2 separate regions of the Homo sapiens genome follow, and region 1 is linked to region 2. Evidence: fine-mapped expression QTL. A gene starts in region 2. The other region holds a variant in brackets. All regions are shown on one strand. Distances are from middle to middle.

Evidence for each region.
Region 1: its variant is fine-mapped to the expression of STX10 in whole blood (INTERVAL, PIP above 0.99). The same link has a PIP of 0.9 or more in blood mononuclear cells.

Annotation. Positions count from the first base shown.
Region 1 is chr19:13,121,420-13,124,315 of GRCh38, forward strand. All of the region lies in intron 1 of NACC1 (nucleus accumbens associated 1), which reads left to right. Among named protein-coding and RNA genes, the nearest start is that of NACC1, 4.6 kb to the left of the region's middle. RefSeq lists a silencer at 856-925 and enhancers at 1,296-1,345, 1,909-2,568. The variant A/G (reference allele first, on the strand shown) is at 1,580.
Region 2 is chr19:13,148,672-13,151,567 of GRCh38, forward strand. It overlaps STX10 (syntaxin 10), which reads right to left and starts at 1,704. Exons shown (of 8, transcript NM_003765.3): 1 at 1,468-1,704; 2 at 1,057-1,226; 3 at 828-922; 4 at 358-420. The coding sequence starts at 1,502. It overlaps IER2 (immediate early response 2), which reads left to right and starts at 1,740. Exons shown (of 2, transcript NM_004907.3): 1 at 1,740-1,881. RefSeq lists silencers at 1,215-1,264, 1,305-1,464 and enhancers at 1,585-1,784, 1,805-1,874.

The DNA of each region.
Region 1 (2,896 bases), 27 kb before region 2:
CAGATGGAAGTTCAGAACCCCTTGGCCTGCATCTAGGGTATTTAAAAAATCTGGCCTCCTGGCCGGGCAGCAGGGAGCCCCAGCAGGTTCTTGAGCTGGGCTTTGAGGAGATGTGAGTTTTGGTCAGCCTTACAGGGTCTATTGAAGGAGTCTGCCTGGAGGCCCGGGGGTTTGGAGAGAGTTTGGGGTTGGCCCAACATTGTCTGACCCTAGATTTCATCAGTGTCATTGCCAGAGCCTGTGTGGAGAGAGGGATCCCATCAGGCTTGGTGGGGCATATTGCTTTTGGGATGGTGGTGAGCCACCGGGGCTGGAAAACATGAGTCAGTGTTCATGCCACTCTGCGTCCTCAGATCCTCCGTGCCCCTCGTTTCTCCTCCTAGGTTGCTCTCAGCACTTGTACACACTCGAACTCATTTAAGCCCGTGGCTAGCAGGTCCTGCCTGTTATCATCATTTGACACACAAGGCAACTGAGGCACCCTAGTCCTTCCTTCACACAAGCTGCAAAGTGGTCTGGCTACCACCCCTGTGCCGCCTTCCAGCCACTTTCATGTTCCTCGTGTCTGCATTTGCTCCTCAGTCCTCTCAGCCGCTACTGCCTTCCCCTAGAGAACCCTCTGGGCCGCATGAGGTGGGGCCGGGAGGTGGGACTGGGCCTGCTTGCACATTAGGTGGGGTGAGGACCAGCCGAGCCGGCAGAGGTGACGTGTCTTAGGTTGTGATCTGTGTGTGGTTGTGGTCATGTCCCTCCAGCCTTCTCATGTGCTGCCTCCTTGGCGAAGGTCTCAGTTCTTAGAGACCTGTGCGTCTTCTCTGAGGGCTTTGACTGTGTCCAGTTCGTGGTTTCTAAATCGAGCAAAGGGAGAGGGTAGGTAAGGGTGAGCAGACACGGTCTAGTAGAGAGTGAAATTTCACACTTAGCACCACCCCTGTCTCAGCCATGAGACTCTGGGCAAAGGTCTTTACCTCTGAGCCTCAGTGTCCTCCTCTGATAAGGAGTGACAAGTGGGCACAACTATACTGCTGTGATTCGCAACTGGGTACAGTCCTACCTCCGGGGACACTTGGGGAATGTCTGGGGACATTTTTGGTTGCCCCTGCCGGGGGGGGGGGGGTGTGCTGCTGGCATCTAGTGGGTTTATAGGCCAGGGATGCGGTTCAACATCAGACAGTGTGTAGGGCAGCCCCCACCACAAAGAATGATTGACGCAAATGCAGTGGCTGGGTGGGGAATCTCCACTGTCTGGTTATCATGAGGTTTGCGGGAGAGGTTGGCGTCTGGGGTGTGAGTGGACAGTGCTGTGAAGGCTCTGGGGAAAACCCCAGCGATCACTGCCTGTTAATCCCATGAAATGTGCGAGGTCTGGGAGATGGTGAGAGGCATAAGATGTCTTCTACTCCCAGGGAGTTTGCGGCCCAGCACGGGGCCAGGGGATACGACTAACAGCAGCTGGCATTCATGAGCACCGACTACGGGGCGAGCGCCGATCGGCCTGTGTTCTTTGGTTGTTTAATCCTTGAAATAGCCTTGTGAGGTGGCTGCTGCTGTCAGCCCATTTTCTAGATGGGAGACTGAT[A/G]TGGGGGGTGAGCAGTATTGAGGGTAATTCTGAGTGACAAGCTCTATAAGGGATTTGAGCCTAGTACAATAGTAGGATTCAAAATCTTAGGTCCTGCGTGGTTCCCTAGCACAGCCCAGCAGGCCCCTCTCCCAGGATGATCCCCATCCCTCCACCCTCCTTTGTGTTAGCGGCACCAGGGTCACCTCAGGGCCTTTGCACTTACTGTTGTTCCCTCCACCCTTGGTTGCCGCCACTGCTGCCCTGTCTTTTGGGTATGATCTGATTACACGCAGGGAGTGGGATGTAACTCCGAAGGGTGGGCTTATGGTTGGAGTTGGTGGGGAGGGAGCGGGCAGGCTGCGAGCTCCATGAGGACGGAGGCAGAGCTTCTGCCAGGCTCTCCAAGGAGCTGGAGCTGCTGCCTGCAAAGGGAGGCCAGATTGCCGAGGGCTGCGAGGAGGAGCGAGTGGGAGGAGGGAGAGGCAGCACGCGGAGACTGCTCATTCCCGGAGATGGTGGTTGCAGGGAGAAGGGGCTAGAGAATAGCTGCAGTTGGGAGGATTGGGAAAGGAAGAATGAAAAGAATGAAGAAGGCCTTCCTTGGGGATTAGAGAGAGGGCACCCCAGACCCTGAGGTGGAGGTCCTCAGACAGGCAGAAGACCCTGTTTCTGGAGAGGACACATCCAGTAGCTCAGGTAAAGAGCCCCAGCTCTGGGCTCGGCCGGTCCGGGGTTCCCGTCTGGTCTCTGCCTTGCTTCTCTGAACACCAGTTTTCCCACCTGTGAAATGGGTCTAGTCACAGCTGCCTCACATTTTTGCCTGATTCGGGAGCCAGACGGCCTGGGTATAAACCTGTGCCTGCCATTCACCAGCTACATGTTCCCCACCTCTGGCTTCACCTCTCTGGGCCTCATTCCCATCCATGAAATGGCAGGCAGGCTCATTTCTTCCTCAGAAACTGTAAAGAAGAGTAAGTTAAATGAGCCTGTCTGAGCCCTGGCCAGGTATGGGCCCAGTCAGTGAGGCTTGAGTAGGGGACACTGTTACTAATCCTATTCCACCATGGATTTAACAATAGTCATTCAGGGAAAGAGATAACGAATTAAATCTGTGGGTGTATAAGAAAAAAAATACAGGCCAGGTGCAGTGGCTCACGCCTGTAATCCCAGCTCTTTGGGAGGCTGAGGTGGGCGGATCACTTGAGGCCAGGAGTTTTGAGACCAGCCTGGCCAACATGGAGAAACCCAGTCTCTACTAAAAATACAAAAATTAGCCAGGCATGGTGGTGTGTGCCTGTAATCCTAGCTACTCAGGAGGCGGAGGCACGAGAATTG
Region 2 (2,896 bases):
TCTGTCTCAAAGAAAAAAAAAAGAGTAAAAGGCAGGCATGCGTCCTGGAAACAGGTGCACACAGGACAAATGGCATGGAAGCAGAAAGGAGATAGGTACACAGGCCCCCAGCCCTCTCCTGCAACAGGAAACCAGTATAGACCCAGAGGACACAGTAGAGAGGAACCCACGGACATATACACATAGAGAGGTTCAGGTGCACACACCGAGAAAGTGCAGGCAGGTAGACAGCAAGAAGATAACTGCCCACAGAGAGGACGGGCACTGTCGCAAAAGGGACAGGTGAACACGCACAGAGGGATCTGGCTTGGTTACCCCCAGGGGCTCAGGTGGGCAGGGTGGGTCAGGAAGGCTTACCTCTCTGTTATTCCTCTCCAAAAATGCTACGGCTGTTGGGCTGACCATATGGTCCTTCATTTCCTGGAGGTAAGGACAGCATTAGGGAGGAAAGACACTCAGGCTGGGCGCGGTGGCTCACGCCTGTAATCCTAGCACTTTGAGAGACCAAGCCGGGTGGATCACCTGAGGTCAGGAGTTCGAGACCAGCCTGATCAACATGGTGAAACCCCGTCTCTACTAAAAACACAAAACTTAGCCGGGTATCGTGGCAGGCACCTGTAGTCCCAGCTACTCAGGAGACTGAGACACAAGAATCGCTTGAGCCTGGGAGGCGGAGGTTGCAGTGAGCCGAGATTGCAACACTGTACTCCAGCCTGGGCGACAGAGCGAGGCTCTGTCTCAAAAAAAAAAAAAAAAAAGAAAGAAAGAAAGAAAAAAAAACACACTCAAACCTTCCCCCACTCCCCGCCTGCAGGACCTTTCCTGACCTGGACTGCCTCTCGCATCCGCTCCACGAACACCTTTCTCTCCTGCAGGTCCCCGGCTGGGAGCTTGAACTTGCCTGGGTTGGCTTCCACTATACGTGGGCTGAGAGTCAAGGGTCAAGGCCGGAGCCAGATATCATCCCCGTCCCTAGGGGTCCAGCCCTACCCGAAGGTGGGCTGCCACCGCAATGGGCTCTCCCATGCCACCCTCTGCCACAAAGCCCCAGGATATCGATGGTCTCTTCCAGGTCCTCGAGGTCCCACTCGATGCTGCGCAGGCCATTCCGCAGCTCATTGGTCGTCCAGTCCAGCTCCTCGCGTCCGACCGCCGCGCTTTCCTGCAGGAGCTCGCACCAGCGCTGGTACAGCCCGCGGGCCGTGTTCACCGCCTTCTGCACCTCGCTGCGGGCAGGGGCACGGCGGGCGCGGCTGGGGGCAGGCGGTCCTCCCGCCTGCCTCTGCCCCCGACTGCAAACCCAAACGCATGGGGGACTCCGGAGACCCCTATATACCCCTGCGTGCGCCTCCCACTCTGCACCCCGACGGCCTTGCCCAGCCCGCCGGGCACGCTGGGGCCGGCACCCGGGCACTGGCTGGCTTGGGTACAGAGCACCCTCCGCCCTCCCCCGTCGTTGTCACTCACCCTCGGACTACAAAAAAGGGGTCTTCGAGAGACATGTCAGTCCCTTCCCCCCCAGGCCGAACCCCCCTCCCGGCCTGGGTTCGCGGGCTGGTTCCCTCCCAACCGAGGAGAACGCGCCGCCACCCCCGCCCCCGTCACGCCACCATCGAGAGCCGGACCGCCAGGGGAGAAAGAGAAGCCTCGGAGGCCCGACGTGCGGACACTTCCGCCCTCTCCTCAGCCATCTTGGTTGTGGGCAGAGGCAGCTTCCGGTGCACATGCCCCCGCCCCTTAGCCCTCTCGTGCCGCACCGTAGGGGGCGGTGTCGGAGTTCTGTCTGGGCCTATTCGGGTCCGAGTTCGGAATTTCGGTTCAAGGCCCAGTTCCTCGGATTGTTCCTGCGCAACTTCAGTTTCCCTTCCAGGCACGGGCAATGTAAATAATGATAGCCTCCCTCATCTCTGGCGGCTGGGTATTATGGCTGGGGAAGGGGCTCATTCGATTCGTTGAAGCTTTTCATGGACTCCCTGAGCTGGCACCTGGGAGATCGTCCCATCCCAGGGTCCCGAGTGTCAGGTTTGGCTAGGGTCTGGGGGAGAGGTGGTCCTCCCTTCTCCCTGCGGGGGCGCGGTGAGGAGCGGGCCTGCTCCTCCGGGGAGTTCTGCCGCATTCTCCCAATCTCTTTCCTGAGAAGTGGCGGAGTTGGGGGCACTTCGAGGTCGCCTTGGGGCGAGGTGGTCGTGAGGGGGTCCCAGATATGCCAGCAGCGGGGGGAGGTCACCTTTGAGAAAGTGCGTGGAGGTGGGTTTCTTCAGAAGCGCGGAGTCTTTCTGGGTGCGAGCCTGGGGGTAGCGGGTGGTGGCTTTGAGGATGGTCTCCAGGGGGGCCCTCTGTGTGTGGGGTCTCCGTCTGGGTAGGGGCCAGGAATATCAGCGGAGGGACTCAGGGTCGTCCCTATGTGTGACAGTGGCGCTGTGTGTTGGGGAGCTTCGGGAAAGCACTTTTTTTGAGTGATAGGGGGCCTGGTCTCCCCTGGAGGGTGGGCGGGTTATCTGAGGGAGTCCTCGGAGGGTCGCCCCCTTGCGCGTCAGAGTTGCTGCGTGGGGTCTCAGAGATAGCGCCTGGGCTGGGGAAATCATTGTGGGGTCTCCGTGGTAAGGTTAGCGGGGTGGGGACGGCCTGCGTCTTCGGCAGGTCGTCGCAGTCTGGCACCATCGTTGAATGGGGACGAGTTTGGGAAGGGTATTTTAGGGGGGAATAACTTTTGAGTTCCCAGCGTGCGGGGGAAGGGCGGGACGGGAGGGTGTCCCAAGGCCTGAGAAGATCAGTGTGGGGCAGGGGTCAGGAATAACCTGGGAGGGGGCCTTGTATGGGGGAAATAATTGGGAAGAGGAGAGATGGGATGAAGGGGGCCTCAGCGGGTCGTCTCCTGTGTATGCAGGGTCGTTCT